6 separate regions of the Homo sapiens genome follow, and all the other regions are reported to be linked to region 1. Evidence: microRNA targets listed by miRTarBase, many of them from high-throughput screens and not tested one by one. Region 1 holds a microRNA gene; each other region holds the end of a gene's coding sequence. Distances are between the middles of the regions.
The links. Region 1 holds the annotated microRNA hsa-miR-382-5p (GAAGUUGUUCGUGGUGGAUUCG, at 1,613-1,634, shown strand). A microRNA usually pairs through its seed, bases 2 to 8, with sites in the 3' UTR of a target mRNA and lowers its output. Matches are read on the target gene's strand: a 7mer-m8 pairs with bases 2 to 8, a 7mer-A1 pairs with bases 2 to 7 and ends in A, and an 8mer does both.

Region 2: miRTarBase lists RBM39 as a target of hsa-miR-382-5p. The part of its 3' UTR that is shown has no 7-base or 8-base seed match.
Region 3: miRTarBase lists GSKIP as a target of hsa-miR-382-5p. Seed matches in the 3' UTR shown: 7mer-A1 at 3,686-3,692.
Region 4: miRTarBase lists MTCL1 as a target of hsa-miR-382-5p. The part of its 3' UTR that is shown has no 7-base or 8-base seed match.
Region 5: the mRNA of SLC25A46 is a reported target of hsa-miR-382-5p. Seed matches in the 3' UTR shown: 7mer-A1 at 1,445-1,451.
Region 6: the mRNA of BBS4 is a reported target of hsa-miR-382-5p. The part of its 3' UTR that is shown has no 7-base or 8-base seed match.

Annotation. Positions count from the first base shown.
Region 1 is chr14:101,052,704-101,057,872 of GRCh38, forward strand. MIR382 (microRNA 382) reads left to right here and starts at 1,603; the gene lies at 1,603-1,678. MIR134 (microRNA 134) reads left to right here and starts at 1,984; the gene lies at 1,984-2,056. It overlaps MIR668 (microRNA 668), which reads left to right and starts at 2,555; the gene lies at 2,555-2,620. It overlaps MIR485 (microRNA 485), which reads left to right and starts at 2,716; the gene lies at 2,716-2,788. It also overlaps MIR323B.
Region 2 is chr20:35,700,990-35,704,989 of GRCh38, forward strand. It overlaps RBM39 (RNA binding motif protein 39), which reads right to left. Exons shown (of 17, transcript NM_184234.3): 16 at 3,679-3,757; 17 at 358-3,592. The coding sequence ends at 3,492. Among named protein-coding and RNA genes, the nearest start is that of ROMO1, 3.6 kb to the left of the region's middle.
Region 3 is chr14:96,384,327-96,389,495 of GRCh38, reverse strand. GSKIP (GSK3B interacting protein) reads right to left here. Exons shown (of 4, transcript NM_016472.5): 4 at 2,208-3,973. The coding sequence ends at 3,812. It also overlaps the pseudogene RNU2-33P. Among named protein-coding and RNA genes, the nearest start is that of AK7, 5.2 kb to the left of the region's middle.
Region 4 is chr18:8,830,646-8,835,814 of GRCh38, reverse strand. MTCL1 (microtubule crosslinking factor 1) reads right to left here. Exons shown (of 15, transcript NM_001395333.1): 15 at 3,037-4,208. The coding sequence ends at 3,975. Among named protein-coding and RNA genes, the nearest start is that of GACAT2, 130 kb to the right of the region's middle. RefSeq lists an enhancer at 4,829-5,169.
Region 5 is chr5:110,761,122-110,766,290 of GRCh38, forward strand. SLC25A46 (solute carrier family 25 member 46) reads left to right here. Exons shown (of 8, transcript NM_138773.4): 8 at 83-4,036. The coding sequence ends at 661. Among named protein-coding and RNA genes, the nearest start is that of SLC25A46, 25 kb to the left of the region's middle.
Region 6 is chr15:72,736,434-72,741,602 of GRCh38, forward strand. BBS4 (Bardet-Biedl syndrome 4) reads left to right here. Exons shown (of 16, transcript NM_033028.5): 15 at 329-530; 16 at 1,045-2,040. The coding sequence ends at 1,154. Among named protein-coding and RNA genes, the nearest start is that of ADPGK-AS1, 44 kb to the right of the region's middle.

The DNA.
Region 1 (5,169 bases):
ATTTTCTGGAAGGGGCTTTGGTGTCTGCACTACATTATTGGGGGAAGTTGACCAGTGAGAGGCCCATTCACACAAGACGTCTGTCACCTGCTCCAAGTGACCCTCACCCTTGGTAAGATGAATCTCTGGAGACATGCTGGCTCGGTAGTGTTACTGTCATCAGCCGGACTGACTGATAGGTAATTGGTCATCATTATTGCTTTTGTTCCAGGGCAGAATTTTTGAGTGCCAAATCTTGCCAGGGAAGGGTTTCTGGAAGCAGCACCGCCCTCTGGGGAGACTTGGCATCCACATCTGTTGGAGTTTGTGGAGAGTTAGTTGAGCAGTCTGAGCTTTGTTTCTGAGGCGTCTCCCTGAGCTCACTCTCCTGCCAGAGCTGTGTCCTGCCCATGGCCATAATGGCTATTGAGAGGGTTGGTGACTTTGGCCACCATGATTTTGTTTCGATAAAGTTCTCTCTTTTTAAAAAAATCAGATTCTTTTGTTTATAGCATAACTACATGGTTCATGAGTTGATCAAATAACAAGGAATGACTTGGTCATTCCATAAATAGTGATGGAGTGCACACTGTGTTCTAGGTGATTCTGGACCTTAGCAGAGAGCAGTGAATGAAATCAAGTTCTTGCTCATGTGGACTTTACATTCTGGTGGAAGAGACGGATGAGAACACATGAATTAGGAAGCGTAATTTTGTCCACTGCTAGGTTTTATGGGGAAAGGGAAAGCGGGTTACAGTGACAGAAAGAGGTAAAAGCAGGTGGACCTTTGTGTTAAATACAGGGGTCTGGAAAGCTCTCTCTGAGGATGTGGGTGGGAATGGAGTGGGGTGGACCAGAGGAAGGTCTGGGGTAGGAGCATTTCAGGAGGAGGGCAAGGCCCATGGAAAGCCCCCTGGCATCTTTAAGAAAAAGCAAGAAGGCCAGTGGGATTGAACCGAGCTGCTGGGAGTCGCTGGGTCTGAGCTGGGAGAGGCAGGACTCCAGGTTTTATTCTGAGTGAGATGGGGGATTTGGAAGGGTTGTGAGCAGGGGGGATGCGTGGTCTGTGTTGGAAAGATCACTCTGACCACAAGGGCATTGATAGAGAATCTACCCAGGGCAGTGATGGGGAACCTACCAGGAGCCTGGCGTGCCTGAGCTGGGCAGTTTCTCTAGGGGCACCTGCAGTGGCAAAAGGGGGCCCCCTCTGGACCTCCCTAGTTCAGTGGGCCCTGCGGGAGCCTGGCTGGCACCTTGATGTGCTTGATGGATAACTCAGTGTGCTCTGTTGAGAAGTCCAAGGCCCTGTTCAGAAACCCTGGGGTCTACACACTGCGGAGTGCTCCTGGCGTGTGACAAGTGGCTTCCCTCTTCTTATTTCTAAACCTTGTGCGTGTGGATTCAGGACCACAATTTCAACTCCAGGGAAGGGGGACTGTGCCAGCACCACTCCAAGGGAGGTGAGTGAAGGGTTGCCCAAACTCCAGTGTGTTCCTAGGACACCCGTAAGCTGCCTCACTAATGCTCGGTGTCCACTCTGTCCACAGGATGGTGGTTGGCAGCCACTCCCCTTGGAGAAGTGGAAGGGGACTCCTTGTCTGTCTTGTCTCTGCTTTTCTGTGGTACTTGAAGAGAAGTTGTTCGTGGTGGATTCGCTTTACTTATGACGAATCATTCACGGACAACACTTTTTTCAGTACCAAATGCTACCTCTAAGGACTTCCTGGACACAATGGCAGCTTCAGGAAAGATAGTCTTTGTGTCAACCATGTGGAAAAGCCAAGAATGGATGGCGGGCCATGGACAATGCGCTGACCTAGCTGTAAGTCACCTGGCCCGATAATCCGAGCCTCCCATGCACCTATAGGAGGTCTTCCCATGGGTCTCACCAACTCTGGGGAATCAGCTGTGGTTCTGTCACCAGCGTCACCTCACAAGACTTTGAAGAGAGGCTCCCTGGGCCCCAGGCCGACTTCCAGAAGAGATGTTGGTGTCAGCACCGTCCAGGGTGTGTGACTGGTTGACCAGAGGGGCATGCACTGTGTTCACCCTGTGGGCCACCTAGTCACCAACCCTCAGCATCACTCCCACTCCAGGAAGACTTTCCAGAGCTCCCACCAACTCTGGGGAAGCGGCCATGGACTTGCTGTGACTGCTTGGTGGACTGCGATGACACGTGCTCTTGGGGGTGTATGTTTACTTAAAATGCAATGAGTCAGCCTTGGCAGCCCCTTCACCACTGTGACAGCCTCCTTGAAGTGTTGACTTCCGATGTGGGACGCCATGTTGTCTTCTGTTGAGGGACCTGATGTGGGCCAGCTTTTCTCCTGGGTGTGTGACTGAATCCTTCTTCCCAGAGCATGTGCTGCCTTTGTTAGGTCTGTCACGTCGTCCTCTAATACCCAGCATCCTGTCTCTCCCTAGGAGGCTCCATGGAGATAATGCGGCTTTGGGAAGCGGCCATGATTCTCCTGTCAGGGACCAGTGAGCTACGCAAAAGCTCCCTGTCTTGTCTGGAAGGACGAACTGCATCCTTGCTGCTGGGGAGAAGGCAGTGCCCTCAGCACTCCCTTAAGGTAAGTGCGCCTCGGGTGAGCATGCACTTAATGTGGGTGTATGTCACTCGGCTCGGCCCACTACCCAATACTATCCCACCCATTCCTAACAGGACTCCCGAGAAGGGCGGCCACCTCTGCCAGAGAGGCAATGGATTTCTCACCAGTGTTCATGTGTGGTACTTGGAGAGAGGCTGGCCGTGATGAATTCGATTCATCAAAGCGAGTCATACACGGCTCTCCTCTCTTTTAGTGTCAAATTCTGCCTCGGAGGGCTTCCTGAGCCAGTGCTGCTTCCAAGGTAGGTTTCTGGATGGCTGACCCCATGGCAAGCATTTTCCTGAGGATGCATGTAACTGACCTACTAACTTTAGAGTCCAAGCTGACCCTAAAACAACTTCCTGGGGCACTACCAACTTTAGGAAAATCGAGAGAGGTTGTTGGGATGCCCTAATTTTTTAAAAGTTAAGATTGAAATACACATGGCTGACTTCTTTTTTTATTCCTATCAAATTCAACCTTGGAGTTGAATCTTGGGCATCTAGAAGCATCTTTTATTAGTCAGCCGTCGGGATACAGAAGAAAACAGGAACAGGACTCTGTGCGACCCCTGGTTTACTAACCCACAGCAGCCTTACACCCTCCAGAGAATTCCTGTAAGGGAATCCCAGGTTTACCAAGGAGGCAGTGCTTAGCCTGCTTTTGCACACACATTTGTGTGTGGTTTGCTTCATATTTAATGACTCCTGTGCCACTGACATCCTTGCATTATTAAATGTTGCCTGCATGGCCAGCTGAGCACAAGAAGTGGTATTTCTGTGCACACTAATCCTGGCTTGGTGAACCTGGGGTTGGCCGGAGAGCATGGGTTTGAGCCACCTGGTCCACTCATCCTCAGGGTCCCATCCACCCTCAGAGGCCACTCCCAAGCTGCCCAGGCTGTGCAGAAGATGCAGGAATGCTGCGAGCAGTGCCACCTCATGGTACTCGGAGGGAGGTTGTCCGTGGTGAGTTCGCATTATTTAATGATGCCCAATACACGGTCGACCTCTTTTCGGTATCAGATCTCACCAGGTGTCTTCTTGGACCTGATGCCGATTTAGGGGACACCATACTCATGTTGGTTCCACACCAGTGCAACTGAACATGTGTGTGGCCCTGGAACCAATGGGTAGGTGCTGCTAGCACTCCTAATCCTCAGCCAGTGCATTCCTGGGGAAGAAGCATGTGATCTGTGCTCAAGACCCCTCTGTGACTGAGGAAGTGGTGGTGCCCATGATGCTTCTGGGGTTTTGTGTTTTTTTTTAAAGAAAAACAATGTATAGTTCTCTTCTCTTTCACTATTAAATCTTACCATGGAGGAAGGACTTCTTAGACATGTTGACAAATTCAGGGAAGGGGCGTTGATTTCAGCATTCTTGGGGACTCACTGGAAGGGTGACTCACCACATCTGTTGATCTGGAGGCCACAGCAAATTTAAGAACAGAAGACAGTTGCATTTTCAATTTCTTGTTTTTCTTTTCAAAAAGGATAATTATTCTACCTTATTACCATATTTATGAAAATGACACATGCTTAATAAAATTCAAGCGATGTGGAAAAATCTAAATGAAAAAGAAGGAAAATTGCCCAATTCTCTGGCACCCAGAAATAACCATTAAGGGCTTTAGAAATTTCATACACCTGTCTGAGCATACATGCAAATAGAAAAACAAGACAGACGCAGGGAAAATATGAGATCACACTGTACCTAATCATTTTATTAAAAATGCTAACTATAATTTTCCTTGAATTTATCATAAAAAACAAGCTAAAGGAGATTGAAATGATTGATAAATGTTTCTCGCTTTACCACCACAGGTAGCAACTCCTAAAAGATCCCTGTAAAATTAAGAAAAATTAGAGTGTAAAAATTAAGTGGTTAGGATTGTTATGGTTTTTAACTATTTCAATTTCACTCCTAGTTCAGAAAGATAAAGAAGTCAGCATTCTTATTCTTCCTTTGCTTACTATCTCCTGCTTTTTCTCAATTATACATTTTAATTTTACATTATAAATATCTGCAATTTGTTCTAGAACTATAATTCTTGCAGGTGTTTTGCCATAGTTCTATATTTAAATGAATTCATTTCTGACCACAAGGTTTGTTTTTTTTTAACTGAGGTTTCTCCGTTCTTTAGTTTTTAAGTTTAATTTATCTCTCAATGGAAATGATCTTATTGTTTCTGTGAGAATAGCTCATAGACACTACCCTTGAGTTCCTGTGCATTTGAGAGTATATATCTCTTTATGCACAAGGGACAGCTTAACTAGGTATAAAAGTCTCAGCCTACTTGTTTTTTCTCAGAAATTTATAGCTATTGTCCACTGTTTTTTGCATTGAGGCTTTCACTAGCTGTCTTAATGTGGCTTCTCCATGTAGCTCTTACTTACCTGGACTATTTTATCTAGCGATCTTCACAAACCTTGTTGGAAAGACTTTGAGGTACTATGTTCTGTGAGGTATTTCGTCTCTGAGAATGTCTGACCATTGCTCTTACACCTTTTCCCATCTGTCCATTTTTTTTTCATTCTGTTCTATTTGGCCTTTATGATTTCAAGTTTTTAAAATTTCTTTAGTCACTTTAAAGATAT
Region 2 (4,000 bases), not on the chromosome of region 1:
CCTCTCTTAAAGGAATATTCTTCTCTCAGCCTATTATCCAGCTTTGCCAAGGATCTTCTGCACTAAAGAGATGGACTAACGTAATGACTAGGGTTAGTATCTCTTTCACAAGGCCTGCCTCTCTTAATCCAAAATTGGAAAACTTGGGAGTGTCTAGTATTTTCCATAGATACTATTCAACTAATTACTCAGTACAACTCTGTGCTTGTTACTACGGTCACCATTTTAAAGGAGAAAAACTACTTCAAAAAATGGATTTATAAGCCGAAATTTCCTCAAGGTCACACATTGCATTATTTCCAAAGCAATGTTCATCCTGAGGTTGGTTGTTTCCTTGGTCGCCCAGGTTGGAGTGCAGTGGCACGATCTCGGCTTACCGCAACTTCTGCCTCCTGTGTTCAAGCGTTTCTCCTGCCTCAGCCTCCCGAGTAGCTGTGATAACAGGCACGTGCCACCATGCCTAGCTAAATTTTGTATTGTTAGGCTGGGCGCGGTGGCTTATGCCTGTAATCCCAGCACTTTGGGAGGCAAAGGCTGGTGGATCACAAGGTCAGGAGATGGAGACCATCTTGGGTAACACGGTGACACCCCGTCTCTACTAAAAATACAAAAACTTAAGCCGGGTGTGTTGACACGCGCCTGTATTCCCAGCTACTCGGGAGGCTGAGGCAGGAGAATCGCTTGAACCCAGAAGGTGGAGGTTGCAGTGAGCTGAGATCGAGCCATTGCACTCCAGCCTGGGCGACAGAGCGAGACTCTGTCTCAAAACAAAAAAAATTTGTATTCTTAGTAGAGACGGGGTTTCACTGTGTTGGCCAGGCTGGTCTCAAACTCTTGACCTCATGATCCACCCGCCTCCGCCTCCCAGTGTTCACATATACAGGCATAAGGCACCACGTCCAGCCCGAGGTTGTTATTTAGATATACCTAGTGGCTTTATCAGAAAAAGCAAAACAGTTCATCCACTGTAAAAAAAAATAGAAACTTCTGTAGCTTCTCAACTGGCTAAATTCCAGATGATTTTCTAACCACTCATCAACAATCTATATAGCTTGCCCTCCACAAAACTTACTAGTTTGATGATAAAAAGCTTCTGTAATGAGGCAGTTGTCCATCTCACCTGCCCAGGCCACGCAGACCCTGGAGTTACTAACCCGCATTGCCCATTAAGCATTTCTTAAACAGAACTTTCAAAGATGGTAGTAATTATTATAAAGATAAAAGAAAACTAGATGAACACTTTGGAACACTGACAGGCAGGAGGAAATTAAGGACATTACCAGATTAGTTACAGATTTTCGAACCAGTGGGATGCTGACTCAGGAACTGATTGGACATAAACAGTTTCACTCAGAATGAGCTGTTTTCTATGCACGACACTATTCAAGTTACTACACTCCAACCACATTTCCTCTGAACATTATTTACACACCAAATTTCACTCTGGTAGCAACTAAATTTTGGCACAGATGAGATTAACCACTAAAGGCCACATTTGCTGGTCCAGTTCCCTAGAAAGCAATGACACAACAAATTTGTTAGGAAGACTTGGTTCAAGGGGAAAAACTGATAGCAGGAGATACTTTGGAAAAAGAGCACACTGACAGAGTGTCTCTGCCCCAAAGAACTCTGCAGTCTGGTATTGAAAAGTAAATTTTCAATGAGGCTGGGCGCGGTGGCTCATGCCTGTAATCCCGGCACTTTGGGAGGCCAAGGCGGACAGATCACTTGAGGTCAGTGTGAGACCAGCCGGGCTAACACCGTCTCTGCTAAAAATACAAAAATTAGCTGGGCACGGTGGTGCGCACCTGTCCCAGCTCTTCAGGAGACTGAGGTGGGAGAATTGCTTGAACCTGGGAGATGGAGCTGAGATCACATCACTGCACTCCAGCCTGGGCCAAAGAGCAAGACTCCATCTCAAAAAGAAAAAGAAATTGAACCTTGGGAGTTTCCATACAAATTAAATCACTAGAACAATTATTGGGATAAATGTCAAACAAAACGACTGATATGAAATTCTGAATAAGCCTGTAAAACTTGTGCTTCAATGCTAACAAAAAAAAAAGTTGAACAAATGAGGTAAGGAACTCAGTATTTGAAGATAAGCTAGGAGCAGCATTTCCTACTCAAAAGATTTACCAAGAGATAAACAGTTGAAGAGAATTGAGTATAAATGGTGACAGCTTGCTTCCCAACTAGTATGAAAGCTCAAAACCCCTTAATACAGTAATATATGCACCTTATTTAATATATTAATATATAAATCAATTTTGGAAACCAGTTTGAAGTTAAGCCATTTTGTTAAGTATGTATTGTAAATGGTGAAAATTTCTTCATAAATATGCCCAGACAATGCAGGAGACCAAGAATGCCCAGGTTTTAAGGCCAGGCTGTTTCCTTTTCTTTTTGGTAAACCCCTCAGTTTTGATACATTCTTCTAAAATACACAGGGCTAGACTCTAATAGAATAAAGGAATTCATGGGGGACAACGTGAGGGCAAGTTTCCGCAGACTCGGAACATTTTCCCAAGAGGCAAGTACTGAATTGAGACTAAAAGAAGCTAATTCTGTTCTCAAATTTCTGTAACTTTAAAACATTTGAAAAATGAAGATCTCCTGTGGCCTTTTTAAGAGACTTTTATTTGAGTGGTTCTTACAAAGATTGTTGCAATATGAAAGTCATTTGTTTGATAGAAATATCAAGCTGTCTTGTCAAACACACTGAAGTAACCCAAAAATATATTTCAGAGCTCACAGAGCTTAAAAAGAGCAAAGATTATATGCAACCAGACAAAACCTATTTCTGCATTTCCTATTTCTTTCTCAGACTGCTTTGCCTACCAGACTCTCACGTTTAAACATCTTCAGGAAATGCAGGGATCATTTTGTTTGGAATTTTAAGACACACCAGAACACATAGTATTTACAAAGAAACTTTTACAGATACATTAATTGAAAAGATACCATCAAGAAATATAATTTTGAAATCTCCCTTTCTTGCCAATTGATCAGAATGCAAGATGAGATGCTAACCAAACAGCCCTTTAGCTGTCTTGTATTTCCATACACTAAATGTGTATTTCAGAAACTGCTCAACCATCAGCCAAATATCAACATTAGTGAAATGTGAAATGTAACCACTGTGTAAAAAGTTAGGCTTCTGAAACATTAAAAACATTACATCCCTGGTCTGCCTTTTTACAGAAAGCACATTTGTTCTCCTAGAGCTATTCCTATAGTTCATTAATTTTCTACATGAACATTTTAAAAGGCAGAACAAGAGAACAGTTTTGTATACAGTGGGATTTACTATTTAGGGAGAATGAGCACACTGCATTCCTGTTAACATTTTTATTTTTTCAAGGTAACAGGAAATTGCATACAAATGACAGTAGATCCTTGCCTCTTTATTTTTATCTAAATAAAAGATAACTCAAGATGAATTCTCAAGAAAGAAAAAAAGCTATATACATAAGGGACTATATCTTCCTTCATCGTCTACTTGGAACCAGTAGCTGTGTTGCTGTCATAGAATCAGGAAACAGGTTGTGGTAAGTTGGAAGAGGTACATATGCTGCTGTTATCATTTTACCTATTAAAAGAAACAGACATGTTGGGTTTAGCATCTTCATTATAGAGCCTTAATAACAATCAGTCAAAAAATAAATTCAAACTCACCAGCAAACCACCTGCCATGCAATGCATTGACAGCAGCAATAGCTGCAGCAATTGATGGGCACTTCACATACACATTGCCCTACAGAAAAAATGAAAAAAAAGGTAAAGATGTTGCTGTATGCAAAATGGACCCAAGTTATGTTTATTCAAGTTGCCTGTAGAAACTTAGTGCTCTATAACCACAAACTGGTTTACCATAATGGTTCCACTGGCTAATAGGTATACTAGAATTTTATTAAAAAATGACTTCTACTCTCAAATTTGCCGTTTTATCTTTTCTCTACGATTTGTATGCAGCCTAAGAATGAATCAAGATGCCAAG
Region 3 (5,169 bases), 4.7 Mb from region 1:
CCTGTTTCTTTCATGAAATGAGCTTGCCACAGTTACAGGGGGGATAGCTTCTAGATAATTTTATATATATTGGTAGGTTAAAAAAGGGGATTCTATTTTTTTTTTTTTTTGACATTGAGTCTCACTCGTCGCCCAGGCTGGAGTGCAGGGGGCAATCTTGGCTCACTGCAACCTCTGCCTCCCGGGTTCAAGCAATTCTCCTGCCTCAGCCTCCCCAGGAGTTGGGATTACAGGTGTGTGCCACCACACCCAGTTAATTTTTGCATTTTTAGTAGAGATGGTTTCACCATGTTGGCCAGGCTGGTCTCAAACTTCTGATCTCAGGTGACCCACCCACCTCAACCTCCCAAAGTGCTGGGATTACAGGTGTGAGCCACCACACCCAGGCCAGAGATTCTACTAATTCTAGTATACCAACTAACATGTTTGTTATTCTTTCCCTCTTTTAAAATCAGTTTTCGTATAAACACAAAATTAATGTGATGGTTTTTATTAACACGTACTGTATGGGGACAGCTGGCGGAGTCAGAAGACCTAGGTTCTGATCCAACTACACTGCTCACAAGCAGTTGCTGAGCAAGTCGCTCAATCTGTCTATCTCACCTGTATCATCCAGAAAATAAAGGGATTGGAAAGAAAGTTCTGAAGTCAATGTGGCACCTATCAGAATCTCAGTGTTTTCTTACTATGTTCCTCAACATTCAAACAGCACATTCTGTTTTTGAACACCGGGGAGAGAACAGCACAGTGTGCAATAGAAGAAGCTAATGATTGTAAGTACATTAGTAGCAGCCGAACCTGGAGGAAAGGTGGGAAGAGTGTCATCATGGGAAATGAGGTGTGCACTCTTCTCTTCATAATCATTCTGCCCTCTTCAAGGATCTGGGAGCAGATACAACTCAGCAAGGATTGGTGCTTTTGCTAGACAGCCTCTAGGTAGCTTAAACCCCACATCTATTGCATTTCCTGCTTCTAATTAGTACATACAAGCTAATGTATAAAATGTGAAAAAGTATTAAGGAAATGAAAATTATCTATTTTATCACCTAGTGATGACTACTAACAGCCTATAATCTTTTTTTGTTACATATACAATTATTTTTCAAAAAAGTATGTATAGTTTTATATCCTTTTTTGTGTAGCATAATTCTCATTGCCATTTTTTCATGATTTTTAGTGGTTGCATATTTTTCCATCAAAAGATGTAGCATCACTTTACCACTCTTTAGAGCCTTCCCAATTTTTCATTAGGGGAAATGAACATCCTTATATACTAGTTTTTTTGCTGAATCATTTCCCTATGCTAGGTTGCTAGTATATTACCAATTCAGAAGTTATAAACTTGTAAAGGATTTATTACCAATGTTTCCAGAAAGATTTCAACAATATACCCTCCAATAGAATGTAAGAGTGCTTCCTCATTAAATCCTTACTGGTATTAAGTTTAAATAAGAAGAATCACAAAAGTAGCAGGTGAAATGACCCAATAACTTAAAATTTCTCTTTCTTGAGTTAATGGTTGGGTTGGGCCTCTTTCAAGTAGTTACTGACATCTATTTTTTTTTCTGAGTTGACCATATTATTTGCCCACTGTTTGCATTTTTTCTTCCTACTGATTTGTAAAAGTTATTTATATAAAAGTTTTTTTTTTCTTTTTCCTTTAGAAGTGAAATCAAGGCTTAATTTATCTGGTTAAGTTTTATAATTTTCATTTTTTTTTTTTTTTTTTAAGAGACAGGGTCTTGTTCTGTCATCCAGGCTGGAGCGCAGCAGCACGATTGTAGCTCACTGCAGTCTCCAATTCCTGGGCTCAAGCAATCTTCATGCTTCAGCTTTCCTAATAGCTAGGACTGCAGGCATGTGTCACCAGGCCATGCTTTTATAATTTTTTGTAGAAATGGGATCTATGTTGCGCAGGCTGTCTTGCACTCCTGGCCTCAAGTGATCCTCCTGCCTGGGCCTCCCAAACCACTGGAATTGCAAGTGTGAGCCACGACACCTGGCCTATCTGCTGGTTAAGTTCTTTAAACAGACCAGGTAAAATGGAGGTTTTAATATCTAGATTCTCATGTATATCTGTGTAGTTTTATTAATGTCCTCTCCTCTTGTTCCTCATTGCTCTTTCATAGTAGTAACAAGAGAAAGCTCACTTCAGTCATTTCAAATCCAAATGTAACAATGCAGAATTAAAAAATGGAAACAAGCTCTTGGAATTAATCATTTATCACAAAATGAACAATTTCAATTCTTAAACATACAATCACTTTTTTTCATACTAACTCAAAATGAGTAAACAGAATTTTATTCAAACTTTACAAATATCATTTACATTTAGCCTGAGATTAAACATGAGAAAGTTCAACCTGAAGTTAGACTTCGTTGCCCAGTTAAGCATCTGAAAATAAAGCTGAGAATGAACATACATCATCAAACAAAGCATTCCAATGAAGTCTGGCAATGAATTGTGACACAAACTGAACTTTAATTTGCTCTGGTCCACATGATCTTCAGAGCCTAAAAGTTCCTGTTTTTTAATAATGATGGAAAAATATCTGCAAATGATAAATGCATGAAGGTATGACCAGATGCAAAATTTTAGTTCAACATTTCTATAGCAGCTGCTTTAGGTGACCATTAAAAAACAACTCCCCAATCCTTACTGTTCAACATGTACTTGAAAACATGCAGCAGCATGGTACAGTTTATTAAATTTATAAATATCAGTACCTGTAATAAAATATAAAATACTGACTATTCCTTTTTCAAATATTAAGTCTCTGAATGCTTCATTCATCCTTTGGTTTCAAACCCATACAATGCACTCATATTACATTGTAGATTTCGAATGGAGACAGAACACTGTACATCTGTTGGGGAAGGTGGGGTGCTGTAGGAATACCAAAGCACTACATCATAGAAAGTAAACGTTGAAGCAAAAATACTTTCTGAATATATACTGTACATTATGTAAACACACATTCAGAATAAGAATCAACACAGGCCAAAATATTGTTTTCTAGGAAACCAGAATCTTCTTTCTTTTAAATCACACACTGAAGATGCTTTTTTGTTAAGAAAAAGAATGAAGTCTGTTCCTGTATTTGCTTATGTGCTTAGATATCTTGGAAATGAGTAATTATTACATTCATTTGCTAACGGTTTATCCTCTGCTTAGTTGGCTGGCTGTTGCAAACACGGAATACAGAACTATTTCAGTCCCTGTTTTTCATTTAATACTAGTTAAGTAATATATAATTAATTCATCTTTATTAATCCATTATTAGTAATATAAATAGATTAAGTGAAGCAGTGAATTTCAAAATTTGTGCAGGGGAAACTAGTTGATAATTTGTTTCCAATAAGGCTGGTAGCAATTAATTACTACAAAGTTTGTCCAAGCTAGTATTGAACCCCTGATTTAGCAGGCTGAATCAAAGTGTATAGTTAGGTACTTCTAATTCCTCTATTACTGTGCAAATCTAGAATTTCCTATGTAAAAGACAGTGCTGGCAGCATCAAAGCCCTGTAATAGTATGAAATAGTGATTAGGATTTGAAATGAAGAGATATTATATGAAGACATGTGAATGTCTTAATGATGGTATCATAGCAACGGCCTCAGAATTCCCTTACTGAAACAGAAACTAAGACAAATCATTATTCAATAATCTTCTGAGCCAAAAGCCTAAGTTGGAAGCAAGTGATAAAAACACAAAACCAAAGATGCATTTTCTATGACCATATGCAAGAATTTTAAGCTTTATATCAACATTCTGTACCAGCACCAGCCCCTCTGAAAGGAAAAAGTGTAGTCATGACTGTCCATCTCTTTTCAAAGCTTCCAGTCTTTGAAGCAGTGCGTTTCCAAATGCTTCTCGGTAGGCGGGGCTGAGTGTATCCAACAAGGAGTAGACTGTTTCATGGTAGGGAGTCTGTAAATGATCATCTACCTGGTCAAAAGCATAGCCTACCACCTACAAGAGAAATGCAACAGTGAATTCATTAGTTTTCATGTTGGTACAGAAAGCAAAATCCAAGTGTTTATGTGAGTAATCATCCTTTCAAAAAAATAAATTATTTCTTTTCCTAGCCACTAGACCACCAGATACATGGGTAACTGAGTGAAACTATTTCTCAAAGTCAGAGTATACACATTTTAAATACAACCTTTAATACTTCAGCAACTTATAATGTATAACACAGAAACACCACTAAAATGCTCCCTATAGAATTTTCAACATTTAAAAGGTTTTACTTAGAAGCTCAAGGAAATGCAGAGAAAGAATTTGAAAAGCTACACAAAAATGGTATTTCATTTTCATATTCTAAAACATGCATCTATTATTTACCCCATTTAATTCCACATATATTGAGGGTCCACTATATTAAGTACTATAATAGGTAATATATCATTAGTTCATATTTTTTTCATTATTTTTCACTTCTTTTATAAACAATTCTAAAAATTATTCCTAATAATTTAGTTTTAATAATTAGTTGTTAATTTTAATAATTGTTTATTAATAATTGGTTTAATAGTTTATTAGTTTTAATAACTGTTTAGCTTTATTATTAGTAATCTGAAAGGCCACTTTCACCTAATATATTTCTTACCTGACAGGGAATAAATGCTCAATTCTGTGAGATAAAAGAACATGTTAATGTGTTTTTTTTTTCTTGGTAGGGGTACACTATTTCTGGAGGTATTTGCAATACCAGGTCGATGTGTGAAGTTAATGGAGCAAGAGCCTATTCTATCTCCCTGCTCCAAAAATCCATTTAATATATTGTCCTTAGATAGAGGACATAACAGATATTAAACTGATAAGAAAAGATACTCCAATTGATCTTAGGCAAAAGGCTGACAGGCCATGTGTTTTTCTTTTTTTTTTTTTCCTGTGAACACAGCTACAACTTTTCTTTTTGACAAGATTATAAGGTATATCATGGTTCACCAGCACAATATAGGGCAAAATTAATTTAGTTTTTGCTGACTTAAGTGTGTACATTCCCTATATAAATCCTAAATTTTTATGACATCTATTTAAGCCATAGGAGGTGAAAGTTTGTGTTAGAAATAGAAGCTGAGTTTTTTTTTTTTTAAATGAAAAGCAGAGGCAGACACCTAAGGAAAATGAATCACACCTCTTCAGATCCATGCTCTATTACT
Region 4 (5,169 bases), not on the chromosome of region 1:
TGGCTGTTACCCAGGAGGCAGGGCACGCCTGACGTGTGGTCTGTGGCTATGTTTGAGGAATCTTCTGCTGCTTTCTTTAGGGCATAAAAGCAACTGGCACATTCATGGCAGCTCATGAAGCCATTCCCTTCAGGCAGCTGCTCCCCTTTCACACCATGTGTGACCCACATAGCAGCCTTGGCATTCATCTGGACAGTGGTGTGGAAAATGATTTCATCCTACTGTCTTGCCTGGCCTTTAACAGTTGGAGTGCTTCCACCCTAGACTTAAGAATACACATGTCCAACTTTTAGAAAATAAGATGTGAGAAGAAGTTCCCAGACGGCTTTTCAAGGCACTGGTGCTGCCAGATGTGGCTTTTTTGATGAAAGTTCTGCTCCCAGCCTGGTTTCTGCATCACTGCCCAATGCGACCTGTGTCTATTACTGCCCCTCACACCTCTGCTCCTCCCACCTCCCACTTGCTTCTCCTCCTGCACATTGGAATGCTTCCCGTACTGCCAAGCCTAACTCAAGCCCTACTGTACTTAGAATTTCTACCACACCATTTTTCATTTTATTGTTATTGTGCCTGGGAATGTTATCTCTTCCAACCAGTTGGCAAGTTCTGTGGTGCTCAGAGCTTTTTCCTTGCAATTTTGGGGTGTCCCACAGTGGTATACGCCTTTACTGCCTTTCTGACGCCCTCTATTCTAATCGTACCCTGCTTTTCCTTTGCTGGGTCTTCCCGTCACCACGATTGGCTCAGAGCCAGACATGAGACTTAATCCCTACCAAATGAGAATCATCGGTCCTGGGCTTTCACTGGAGCTCCTGGTAAGAGATCCCCTTTCTCTAGGAGTTGCTAAACTAATAGCAGCAGCTAGGGACCATTGTTGCCAATTTTTGTGATGCTTGTCTGAGTATAAAGCCATACAGAGTAGACAGAGTTAGGAGACTGAGCAAAGTCCTGATGGCACGGTTTGAGGCTCTCAGTCGTGACAGCCACAACTTCCCTTCTTGTTGGTGGCTGGTTGCTTCCAATTGAAGGAATACCAATGTACCTCTCAGCATTTGCAATCTGCACAGAATAGGCAATGAATATTTACTGACCTGCTGATTGTTTGTTTGCAGGTATATCTAGAGTGATAAAGTGAAATATTTATATTTTGCATTTATTGGAAGTTTTTATTGGCCAGGCACGGTGGCTTATGCCTGTAATCCCCGCACTTTGGGAGGCCGAGGCAGACAGATCCTCTGAGGTCGGGAGTTCGAGACCAGCCTGACCAACATGGAGAAACCCCATCTCTACTAAAAATACAAAATTAGCTGGGCGTGGTGGCACATGCCTGTAATCCCAGCTACTTGGGAGGCTGAGGCAGGAGAATCTCTTGAACCCAGAAGGCGGAGGTTGTGGTGAACTGAGATCACGCCATTGCACTCCAGTTGGGGCAACAAGAACGAAACTCCATCTCAAAAAAAAGTTTTTAAGCTGGGCATGGTGGCTCACGCCTGTAATCCCAGCACTTTGGGAGGCGGAGGCAGGTGGATCACGAGGTCAGGAGATCAAGACTATCCTGGCTAACAGAGTGAAACCCCGTCTCTACTAAAAAAAAAAAAATACAAAAAATTAGCTGGGCGTGGTGGCTGGCGCCTGTAGTCCCAGCTACTCGGGAGGCTGAGGCAGGAGAATGGCGTGAACCCGGGAGGCGGAGCTTGCAGTGAGCCGAGATGGCGCCACTGCACTCCAGCCTGGGCAACAGAGTGAGACTCCACCTCAAAAAAAAAAAAAAGTTTTTATTGTGGTAAAATCTATAGGCCATTTATCATTTTAACCATTTTTAAGTGTACAACTCAGTGGCATCAAGTATATTCACTGTGCACCATCACCACTGCCCATTTCCAGGACTCTTTCATCATCCTGAACTGACACTGTGTACCCATTACACACCAATTCCCCATTCCCTCCTCAACCCTTGATAACCACTGTTTTCCTTTCTCTCTTTGACTCTGACTACTCTTGATATATAAACGAGATACATGGAACCAAACAATAATTGCCATTTTGTGGTTGGCTTATTTCACTTAGAATAATGTCCTCAAGGTTCATCCATGTTGTAGTACGTCAGAATTTACCTTTTTTAGGGCTGAATAGTATCCCTTTATATGTATATACCACATTTTGTTGATCCATTCATCTGTCAATGGACAACTGAAGTGTTTCCACCTTTTGGCTATTATGAATAATGCTGCTATGAACATAGGTGTGCAAACACCTGTTTGAGTCCCTACTTTTGGTCCTTTTGGGTGTATACCCAGAAGTGGAATCCCTGGATCCTATGGTAATTTTATGTTTAACTTTTTGAGGAAGTCATACTGTCTTCCACAGCAGCTGGGCCATTTTACTTTCCCACCAACAGTGCTCAAGGGTTCCAATTTCTCCACATCCTTGCCAACACTTGTTGGTTTTTATTTTTTGAAAATATTTCAGTTTAAGGATGAAGCTGTGGTAATGCTAGGATAGCCTATTACATTAGCAGCTCATCTATATAAGAAGAAAATTGTTGGGTTAATGAAGCACTAAATGAAATACTAAAGCCAGAAGCTTCAGCCTGAAATCATTCTTTTTGGGCTCTTCAGTAGCATCACTTCTTTCTACTCCACCAAACACTGAGAGGCGGGCTCATCTCAGGATCAGAGATGGAAAGGCCTCTTCTAGAGTTATTGGCCACTCCCTCTCTCCTAATGAGCAGAGCGGGCAGAGAGGCCGGGCACACTCTGACTTGTAGGTAACCAGTTTCCTCACATCCCTGCCCACACCACAGTTTTGGCTTTTCAACAATAAAGCTGTCTCTCTATCCTAGGACTCTCTTACGGGGAACAGTAAAACTGCAACATGATCACGTACCCAAAGAGTGCATTCCCAGCAAGATATATTAGCAGCTGTTGCCTCTTTACATGATCTCCTCTCTCCCTCATTCCCCTAGCTATGGAAAACTTTCCATCTGAGTCCTTAGGAAAAGATGGAGGGTGTGTGAAATGAGAGACCGAGACATGCTGCCATCTCAGAAGGGCTTTATTTCTACTTCATCACGGTCTCATACAGACCCAGAGGCATCATCATGTGTTTCCATTTGGTATCCTTGTGACTTTTTGTAGTGTTTTCCCTTAAGAAAACTTTGAGTAAACTCTGTACATTGCCAGTTAATCTTTTCACAATAATTTAAAAATGGTGTTGCTGTTGGATCATCGATGCAAGAAGACCAACAATAAAAGTACAGTACAAGGAAATTCACAACATATTACAGTGGAACAGACTGAGTCACATTTAGGTGATGGCGAGGACACAGTAGCGGTATATACATGCACCCGAAGACGTGCAAGCCAAGTAGGATAATATAAGGATCATACAGTGAATTTTCTAAGCCCACTGAGGACTTTGTACCTTTTCAAAATCATCCTGTATCCCCTCCAGCATACAGAATATCTGTCTTGTCTACTGGCTTCATGGCTTTTTCACTACAAAAAGTTCACTGAATCAGACAGTCTGAAGCATTAAAAAATTCGTAAAAAACAGTAACACTGACAAAATAAAATTAACTTAATCCACTCTAATTCAACATGGAAATAAACTGAACCAAAATGTAACAGTGCAAATTTAACAGAGGCAGTCAGGTATTGACAGCGAGGGTGTTCAGAATCTCTTAAAATGTACATTTTTTAAAACTTTTATTTTTTAAATCTATTTATACCTTATTTACCTTTTCGTTTAATATACTGTGTGTAAAAAAGATGGAGACAAAAATAGTTTTCTGAGCTATGAAAAAAATTAAGTTATTACAGGCACATTTACTGTTTCATTCTAGAAACATCTCAGTTTCACAGGTTGAACATTCAGCAGCTTTGTGTTTTTAAAAAACATTCTTTGACCTTGAGAAAACTAGATCTCTCCTGTTGGGCAGAGTTTTGTTCATGGTGATGGTGTGGTTATGCAAATTACAGTGAATTATACTGTGATAATCCATGCAAGCTTGCATCTCGGTGTGGCTGCTCCTCGGGCGGCTCCTCGCCACCATGCTCCTCCAAGGACGTCGGGTCTCCGGGTGACTGAGGCTGTGAGGCAGTGGGGGAATGTGGGGCCCAACGGGACGGAGGGCGACGGTTTGCTGGTCTCTCGGGCCTGGAGAAGCAGGGCTCTAGGGATGGAGCTAGTGCAGAACAAGGTAGTTCCTTCAGAGCCGAGAAAGGGAGACAGGGTTACTCAGACCGGCAGTGTCACCAGTGGATGATTCCCCCAAACACACTTCTCAACAGACTCAAGTGAGATGAAGTATACACCACAGGCAACTCGTGAATATTAACTACTTTCTATGCTCATGCAGAATAACTTAAAATAATAAAGAATTCAACACAAATGATCAGTGACATGAATGGGAAGAGACCAATTATGATTAAACACAGCAATACTGTGAGATGAGTCAGCTTGCAAAGCTCCTTTAGAATTGGGCTGGGGTATACAGAAGGCATGACACAGTGACTGTGGCAGCGGTCTCCACAGGCCACTTCATCATATTCCTATCTGGTAGATCTGTTCATTTGGCCCTTTTGTATGATCTATTTAGCTACAGTGGACAAGTGAACTGGTCCTACAGGGCCTGGATCTACTGGGAGCCCACAAAGAGACCTCTGATTTCATTCAGCTGTGTTAGCAATGGCAGTCGTCTTAAACGAACTCTGCTACTGTTTATTTGAAATTGACTGGGAGTAGCTTAAACAAACTCCCACAACATGGCAAAAATGCTGCAGGCAGAAATTTTAATTTGGGTCTGGTTTTCTTTAATGACTGTTCAATTGCAGCAGCATTTTAAAAAGGTAGAATCAGAATGTACTGGTGGTTTTGTGTTTCAGGCATCCTAATGTTCTGCGAGCAGGTGATGCAAGACACACTCAACCATGTGCAAATCACCTAGAATCCTTATTCTCAAGCTACTTTGTTTTTAAAGAATGTTGAGCTCCTTGTCCTTACATGTTACAAAACCAGGACACCCAAATTTGGAATTTGCTGATACACAGAAATGTAAAAAGCTGTGGCATGAGAAAACTGAGTTGCCCAGCATGGAGCCCGCTGGCTGGAATGACACTCAGACACTGGAAGCTTGAGGTGAACTGAATGGAAGGCACAGGAAGGATG
Region 5 (5,169 bases), not on the chromosome of region 1:
AAAAGGAACCTAAAAAGAGTCCTTTTTCTGTGGCAAAATAAGCAAATGTTAAGTTTTACTTATTTCATCATTTTTATTTCAGAGTGAGATAATTCGAGATAATACTGGCATTTTGGAGTGTGTTAAAGAAGGAATTGGAAGAGTGATAGGCATGGGAGTGCCTCATAGCAAACGACTTCTTCCGCTTCTTTCCTTGATCTTCCCTACGGTGCTTCATGGAGTTCTTCATTACATCATCAGCTCAGTTATTCAGAAGTTTGTCCTACTAATTCTAAAGAGAAAGACTTACAATAGCCACCTAGCTGAGAGCACTAGCCCTGTGCAGAGTATGTTGGATGCTTATTTTCCAGAACTTATTGCTAACTTTGCTGCCAGTCTTTGTTCTGACGTTATACTTTACCCATTGGAAACAGTTTTGCACCGCCTTCACATTCAAGGAACACGCACAATAATTGACAATACAGACCTTGGCTATGAAGTGCTTCCAATTAATACACAATATGAGGGAATGAGAGACTGTATCAATACCATAAGGCAGGAGGAAGGAGTGTTTGGTTTTTATAAAGGGTTTGGTGCTGTTATAATACAGTACACACTGCATGCAGCTGTTTTACAGATTACCAAAATTATTTACTCTACACTTCTTCAAAATAACATTTGAGATTTAGGTTCCTTCACTGAGTAGTCTGGAAGATATAATCTGGATAATTTGCTATGAAGTTATGAGGGATACAAGTGAAATACTGGGGAAGAAAATGGATTGGAAAGTAAAATTGGTACTAAAGCCCATACTGATTATCTTGACTTTGTTTTTTAAGGCATAGGTATATATTTTGGATCAAAATCCTTCCAAATTTGAAAACTCAATAAAAATAACACTTATTAAATTCTAGTTAGTGTAGCACTCATGCTGAAGTAAACATGATCGTAGGCAGAAGCAAAATTTTATTATAAAATCTAAAACAAAACTTTATAGAGTTGAATCTATTCCATCTGACTTCAATATTTGCCAAACGTTTATTTTACCTCCTAGATTGATGTTGGTATAGTATCCTTAATACAGTGTAGTATATTAATGTCCTTAATACAATCAGGAGGTTTTTACCTTTAAGCAAATAAATTATGTCATTATTGAAAAAGACTTAAGGGATGATTAGACTTGGCAATCTGTAAGCAGGAGTATAAATGTTTTAAATTGCATTGTCCCTATGTAACTATCTTAATGGCTATATATATGTATTTTATAAAGCCATTTATGTATACACATGTAACTTGGAATTTCCTTCATCCCTACACATTTTCTACACTTACATCACCTTATTGCATAAAACAAAGTCACGCGCTTTCTGCTTGAACATCAAAATATCAAAAACCAAGGTACCCAAAAGATACAAGTCAGAGACAACATCCTTGTCCATATCCAAACCCAGTGTTTCAGTGCTAGCAACTTAATTTCTCATACATTTATAGAGTTTGGTTTGCTTTGCTAGTTGTGTGAATCATTGGGCTGTTTTTAGAGCCACTGTTAAGAGAGAATATAAAATAATCATGACAATTACTACTGTTTCCACATTTACAAATTGTGTACTTAAATGAACCTCATTTCCCTTTTATTTCTGAATGGCTTGTCTGAGAGGAAACAAAATTAAAATTCATCTGGGAATTTGTGCCTCTTGTCTAGTATATAGTCACCACTAAATAATGGCTTCCGTTTTTATTTTCTTTCAGGTTTTGCTTTAAATTTTGTTTTCCAAAATAGATGTACGTGGAGGGAAAAGCAATTATTCTTATCACCTTTTATTTAAACTTCTTTAGATGAATACTGAAGAAAAATCCAAACCTTAAAGGAAATGTGCCCTTGTATTTTATGGGTGAGGGGAAAAAGTACATTTGTACATTTCAACATATAATAAGCAAAAAAATTACTAATCAGTTTAATAAAAACATTTTGTCTATTCCTAAATGTAATTTGGTGGGTTAAGCACTTTGTGTAGTAAAATGATATGTGTCTGCTCTATCATTAGACATTTTAAAGTTTCATGTCTTCACGTGAATAATCACAGTTGTATCATGAACCATTTAGCGCTCTGAAGCACAGTGACTTTGCACTGATATTGTCCAACCAAGAATGCATACGAATAGAAATTCATTTTACTTGCTAAATGTCACAGAAATGGTTACTTTTTGCAAATAGTAGTGTTGGAACAAAAAAGTGATATCCAAAAAGTGTAAAAACAGTAATAAGTAGCAAATCTCTCGTGTGTGTGTGTGTGTAGTTACTGAAACACCTACATTTTCCATTTTTAAATTCCACCAAAAGGGGGAAAATAAAATTAAACACCACTGATCACATTTTATATTTTATGGTGACTATTTTAGATTAAGGTTTACTTTGTCCAACCAATAGCATTTAAATTGTTTTCAATTAGGATAGTTTCAGATAAGAGTAAACCAGAAAATTTCAAGTTTGAAAAATTTCTAGAAAAGAATCTGAATAGAATCAAGTATTTACTAGTGAAAATCTGTAGGATCCTTTGTTTAGCTAAAAATTAAATATTTCAGGATATTTTTTGGAAGTTAGCATGAAAATAGTTAGTTACATAAATTCATTTTATTGTAGAATAATTATAAGACTGATAGGCTGAACCATACACAAATAAGGTTGATCTTGTTTTCCTTTTTGGAGAAAGAGAATACAAATTAACATTAAAATTGAAATGTAGAAAGTAAAATATGAATAATTTTTTACAACCACTCCAAATTAGTTGAAACAAAATCTTGAACGGTCACGCACTTAAATTTAAGCTAGCCAAATATGTTGCACTGAATTTTGAAAAGAATGAGTGAGATAACTGTAAGATACGCTCGTTCCCTTTTAAAAATTGTTATTTTTCTTTAACATGGGTGCCAAATCAAATATCCATGGGCTATACTTCTTAAGATAATAACAGCTCAAAATAATATTTTTTAATTCAGTAGAACTAATAGCATTATGGAAAAGATTCTATTAAATGTTCCACAGGCCCACTGGTCCTCTTATATAAGCCAAATTTTGGCCATGGAGCTTGTGATACACTTGCCTTACATTGTAGGGTTTCTTAATTTGAGTCAAGTACACTGAAAGCAATTAAAAACTGGTAAATATTAATTTACTATGTAAAGTGAACTTACGAATTAACTTACTAAATACATATATGTAGACCTTCCCGAAATGCCATTCTCAATTTTATTTTATGGGCTCCAAAAAAAATTATCTGGGTTAATAAGGTTATCTATTAAAGCCCCCAGAATCTCAGCACTAGATGTCATAAATATGAAATAGTAAAAACAAGGTCACTTGAAAATGGGTATTTAATACCTTAGCTGGTGTTTTCAGAAGCATACAGAACTGGAAAGGTAAGAACTTGCTTACTATTGCAGATATACCTGACCACTCACAACTGTCTTTTTAGCAGCAGCTTTGTTAAAACTGCACAAAGCATTCACTTTATTGATTGAGTACAAATGCTTTAGTGTTTCTACCTAAGTATTAGTACATCTGTTCAGGAAATGGAAAAAAAAAATGCTGCTTAAATTTGTTTTATCAGCTGAGGTTGTGGAGGATTTTTGTCCACTGATCTTTTGCAACAGAAAAGCATACTTTGTCAGCTTCTAATAAGATAGCCAGGTTTGAATTATTTGCAAAATTTATATAAGCAAATAAGATCTCTTGGTAACAATTGACATTGCACTAGAATTTGAATGATACTGTTGTTGGCATTTCTGTTTCTCTTTCAAGTAGTTGTAAATAATCTCTTTTTCTCATATAAACGGAATGCATAATGTCTTACTCTTGAGTCATTTAGTATCATTGATATGGTACCAAGTTGTATAGCAGAGTAACAAAATCATGATTTGACAATGAAATTTACATATTGCCTCACCTAGAGATGTTTTGTCTGTATGACTTTTTTTTTTTTAAGTTTGTCTTACTGTTACTTTAAATGTTTTGGGTAAATTGTGTAATATGAAAAGTTCAATAAAATGTCGAAATAAAGCCACTGTTTTTCTCCTACTGATGTGAGAGAACTATTCAGGCTGGTGGTTAAAGATGAAGTATATTTTTTTAGGTAGAAAGGAAGATCAACAAAATATGTGAAGTTAAACTTTTTTGCACACTATTTTTTAAAATCTCTATAGCCTCCTCACCACATCCCTATGACATTTTTGGAGTTGTGCTGTTTGATTAAGAATAAAATAGATACAGAGAGGAGGTGATTTGTCCTGCATTTCACAACTAGGAGAGTAACAACAGAAAAATGACAAATAGGCAGCTCCAGACTCCCATCCCTCCATGGAAAGAGAAGAAAACAACCAGAAACTGTCAGAACCAACTTTGTCAGACTCTGGAAAACAGTCAAAAGTTTACAGCAACTATGTGAATGTTAAATCAAGAAAAAGGCAACTTATTGTTAGGAAAGCTTTGTGGCTTTGACTTACCTTGGCTCCTGTCTTCTCTGTGGTTCAGTGGCATGGCAGTCTTAAAAATGGCAGCTTGGGTGCCCAGTGTGGGACCTGACCCTTGGTTCTAGAAGGAATAGAACAGACATAACTTGCTGGAAGGGAGTAAAACGATGTATTTATAATGCTGGAAATAAGTAATTTCTTTAAAAGGTTAAATAATGTTATATCTAGCAAAACTACCCTTCAAGAATGAAGGCGAAATTAAGACATTCCCGGATAAACAAAACCTAATGAAGTTTGTTATTAGTAGAACTTTCTTACGAGAAATAAAGGGAGTACATCAGGCTGCAAAGAAAAGACAATAGATAGTAACTTGAAGTCATATAAAGAAATAACACAGGTAAATGTAATTTTATAGGTAAGTATAAAAGCCAGTATTACTGTACTTTTAGTTTGTAACTCCACTCTTTCCTGTATAATTAAAAAGGCAAGTGCATAAAAGTGAATCTATTTTAATGGTCACACAATATATAAAAATATATCTATGACAAGAACAATATAAAGTGAGAGAGATGGAGATGTATAGGAGCAGAGTGTTTGTATACTACTGAAATTAAGTTGATATTCAACTTGTTGTTACATGTTTAAGATGTTGTAGCCCTTGAGATAAACACCAAGAAAATGACTTTAAAAACATACAGAAAAGGGAAGAAGGAAAACAAAATG
Region 6 (5,169 bases), not on the chromosome of region 1:
GTTTCACCATGTTGGCCAGGATGGTCTTGATCTCTTGACCTCGTGATCCACGTGCCCAGCCCTATTTCACTTGTTGTAGGAAATGCACTGTTTGGCCCGGTAATGCACCAGGCTTGAATTGTTGGGTTTTGAGATCCTATGTGAACCACCATGCCATCCAGTAAAGGCAATCTGTAATCTCTACTGTTTGATAAGTACTTCCTGCCTCAACTGCTAGTACGACCAGACACTATTTCAGCTAAAACCCCAGCTCGAAGACCAAAGAAGTGGGTTGGCTTGTCTCTGACAGTCACGCTTTTGATTCTTTTACTTCCTTTGTGGACACAAGATGGTGGAGATGGCTCAGAAGTTGGGAGCTGCTCTCCAGGTTGGGGAGGCACTGGTCTGGACCAAACCAGTTAAAGATCCCAAATCAAAGCACCAGACCACTTCAACCAGCAAACCTGCCAGTTTCCAGCAGCCTCTGGGCTCTAATCAAGCTCTAGGACAGGCAATGTCTTCAGCAGCTGCATACAGGACGCTCCCCTCAGGTAGGACCATACAGAGCTCCATGAAGACCTGGCAGGTACAAGCCACATGTGTCTGTCAGCAGAGATTATAGCTTTCAGTGAGGTTCTCTTCAGACTCATATGTCCAACGTAGTATTGGCCACAAGGGGAGAAAAAAAACACAGGGTGGCTAAATTGGCACTTGTTTCCTTAAGGCGAGCTATGTAGTAGGTAACAGCTACTCACAGACTTAGTTGGATGGTCTATACACTGGTCTTTCCAATTTTAGCAATATGTTATTAAGTATATCCTGTTATGCAATGTTTAATTTTTACTGCTTTATCAGAAGTTGACACGTAAATATTTTTCAGTGACTCATTGAAGGCAAACTTGACTGTTGCTTTATTTCTCAGTTATAGTCTTCCCTTATAGTTAATGGGTCAGTCCCACTGGTTCCAGAAAATATGGGGTTTCCTCTTGAACTCTAACAGCAAAAAAGAATGATTTCTTCTGAAATTGTGGAACATGAGGATTCAAGTTTTTATTTTGTTACTAGGTGCTGGAGGAACATCCCAGTTCACAAAGCCCCCATCTCTTCCTCTGGAGCCAGAGCCTGCGGTGGAATCAAGTCCAACTGAAACATCAGAACAAATAAGAGAGAAATAAGAATAGAATGAATGACCCCAAAATAGGGTTTTCTTGGGCGAGGATGTGCTGGATTAGGAAAGGTGACATGACACAGGCAGAGCAGAGTGGCACCCACCACAGAATACAGTGTGTGTTATTACGAGGAGCCAGCAGTTGAGCCTAAGGTCCTTCTACCTACCTGGTATTGGCATTTGAGGTCGGAAACCCTCTACTGCCCCATAAGCCAGGAAAAGTGAAAAGAGAACACAGTTCCTTTAAGAACTGGCAGCAAGGCTTGAGGCCTTATGTATGTAGCTGAGTCAGCAAGGTACATGATGCTGTCTGCTTTCAAAAGGACTTTTCTCTCCTAGCTGACTGACTCCTTCCTTAGTTCAAGGAACAGCTGAGACAGACCTCTGCTGAGTAGCTCTGTGATGACAAAGCCTTGGTTTAACTGAGGTGATCCTCAGGTTGTGAGGTTTATTAGTCCCCAAGGCAAACACAAATATTAGATTAATAATCCAACTTTAATAGTATACATTTAAAAGAAAAAAAACAAAAGCCCTGGAAGTTGAGGCCAAGCCTGCTGAGTATTGCAGCTGCATTTGCCCAAAGGGAATCCAGAACAAGTCCCTCCCTGTATTTTGTTCTTGAGAGGGGTCAGTCTAGAAGCTAGATCCTATCAGGATGAGGAGCAGCAGCCCAGGGCTTGTCTGGATCAGCACCAACGATTTTAAAGAAAAAAGGAAGAGTTTCTTAGATGAGTAATTGTTATTGAAGATAGTCAGTGATAACCACTGACCAGATGCTATCAATACACTATGTGTCCTTTTTAGAATAAAGATTACATATCATCATTCCTTTGGGGAAAATTGTTATTCAGGTATAAAAACAAGAGATCATAATAAAAACCTAAAAGAACCTATGATCACGGTCTTCCCTTACCTGTGTCTAAGCCTATTTTGAAATTGGAGGAGGAACCTCAAGGCCAAGTTCCTGCTTGGTACAGGCATGGCCTCTGCAGCAACCCTGATGCATGATAAGCCAGCAATTTGCTTACTGAGGGCCAGTCCCCATTTTGCACTGAAAGTGCCCTTTAATCACCATAATTTAAAGATAGATAGATTAGATAGATGATAGATAGAAAACTGACCTACTACCAAACCGGTTGGAGTTCCTTATTTTATTACAGGGTCTGTTTTGACATTGAAGAAGCAGCTAACTGAGCAGGACCCCCTTCATTTCTTGTATCTCAAAAAGTATCAGAAGTGATGCCTTTGTCATTCAGCTGGTGGTATGTGGCAAACGTGGATTTGTACCCTGAACAATTGAGAACACTTCTACTTCAGCATGGAGTCTAGTATATTAGAATGAAATGGTCTAGTTACTTTCTGAAACTGGAAAAGTCTTAGTGAAAAAAGAGGAAGAGAGATTTAGGAGCTAATATCAACAGGAATTGGGGATTGATTGGATGTGGCAGGTTAATAATTGGGTACCCATTTCAGGGCTTAGATAACCAGGGAGAGTAAAGGAATATTGGACTAGGGTTGAGGGTTGGTTGTGGAATCTAGTTTTAGATGTTTAAGATATCTAATGATGATATCCATCAGATACCTGAATAGCTAGATTTCAGGAATGAAACCTGGTTTGAAGATAAAGATTCAGGAGTAGGCCAGATACGGTGGCTCACACGTGTAATCCCAGCACTTTGGGAGGCCAAAGCCAGAGGATCACTTGAACCCAGGAGTTGGAGACTGGCCTGGGCAAGATGGCTCAGACCTCATGTCTACAAAAAATTAAAAAGCCAGGCGCAGTTGTGCGCACCTATAGTTTCAGCTATTTGGGAGACTGAGGCAAGAGGATCACTTGAGCCTAGGAATTTGAGGTGGCAGTAAGCTATGATCATGCCACTGCACTCCAGCCTGGGAAACAAAGCAAGACCCCATCTCAAAAAAAAATTTTTTAAGATTCAGGAGTAATTTAGATTTGAGGAATCATCAAAACCATAGTTTTGAAAGGAGTCATCCACGGAAAGCTAGGAATAAGACGACAGGCAACCAAATGAAAGAAAATAAGTATTTAGAGGGAGAAGCAGAAGAGCCCACAAAAAAGCATATGATACAAGAAAAAACCCAGGAGAGTGGTATTATGGGAAGCCAACGAAGAAAGGTTTGGGAAGAGAATGGTCAGCCTCATTGAACACTTCCAACAGAGAGGTACTGTTATCCCCATTTTATAGAAGAGAAAGCTTAGGTTAGGAGAGACAAAACAAATTTTCAAAGGTAAGTGGCAGGACCAGGATTTTAATCCAGGTCTGGATGCAGAGCTCTTGCTCTTAACCATCAATCATCAAGCAGTGATGTATCTTTGATGAAGCAGTGGTGGCAACAGAAACTTAAGGACTTGAAGACTGAATGAGTAGATATTGGACTACTTTTATTTCAGAAAGCTTTGATGTAGAGGGAAGAGGTTTTCAGAGGACAGAACTGTATTCATTACTCTGATATGAGAAACTTCTAATATTTGGGGAGAGAAGGGTAAAAAGGTAGTCTTTTTTAAGTATAGCATGGTGGAAACAGAGAATGCAAGAGTAGAGTTTTTGAGTTTTTCCACATTTGGGGGCAAGATGGTGCTTTGCTTCCAGGGATAGCAGTAAAGAAGCAATGCTTTCCACATTAATTTGACTTAGATTTTCTTTTAAAAATAAACTCTACTAGGGTGTGCAGGGTCAGTCTTTTGGGCATGTGAATTTGCAATTTTTCTTTTACTCTGGTGAGATAGGAGCTATTCTAACTTCTAGTATGGGGGTTGGTTGCTCATGTCATCAGAATTTGTAACAGAATTAGGAAAATGAAACCAAGAACATAATCACAGCTACGGATGTGGTTTTAGAAAACTGAAAGAGAGAGGCAGGAAAGTAGAAGTATGAACTAGCAATGAGAAAAAAGTATCCTTCTTGCTGAATAATATTGGGCAAAACTGTGCATTCCAAAGACAGTAAACCACTTTGGAGTGTGTCACTACAATGATTTTTGTTTTCAAGGAAAACTCATTATTGTCTGATAATGGCTTAGTAGTTCATGTCGGACCAATCCTTCCATAAATAACAAATGTAAACAAGTGGTAAATATAAAATACTCTCTCGGTTTAACTTTAAAAAAATACATATGATTGTTCAAAGAAAAAATATCACAGTGTATGTGAGGCTGAACATACATAAATAACATGACAACTATAAAGCATATATGGTTGCAAGGTTTTAATATTTTATGTAGTGGGACACAAAATTAATCCTAAATAGTTTGTGAAAAGCTGAACATGGTCCTAGCCAGAGCAATCAGACAAGAGAAAGAAAGGGCATCCAGATCAGTAAAGAAGAAGTAAAACTGTCGCTGTTTGCTGATGACATGATCGTATACCTAGAAAACCTTAAAGACTCATCCAAAAAGCTCCTAGAACTGGTAAATCAATTCAGCAAAGTTTCAGGATACAAAAGTAAAGTAAAGTACATAAATCAGTAGCCCTGCTATATGCCAACAGCAACCAAGCTGAGAAATCAAGAACCCAACCCCTTTTACAATAGCTGCAAAAAAACAAAAAACAAACAAAAAAACAACTTAGGAATATACTGAACCAAGGAAGTAAAAGACCTCTACAAGGAAAACTACAAAACATCACTGAAAGAAATCATAGATGACGCAAACAAATGGAAATACATCCCATGCTCATGTATGGGTAGAATCGATATTGTGAAAATGACCATACTGCCAAAAGCAATCTAGAGGTTCAGTGCAATTCCCATCAAAATACCAAAATCATTCTTCACAGAATTAGAAAAAACAATCCTAAAATTCATATGAAACCAAAAAAGGGCCCGCATAGCCAAAGCAAGACTAAGTAAAAAGAACAAATCTGCAAAGCCAAAGTGAGACTAAGTAAAAAGAACAAATCTGGAGGCATCACATTATCTGACTTCGAACTATACTACAAGGCCATAGTCACCAGAAGAGTGTGGTACTGGTATAAAATCAGGCATATAGACCAATGGAACAGA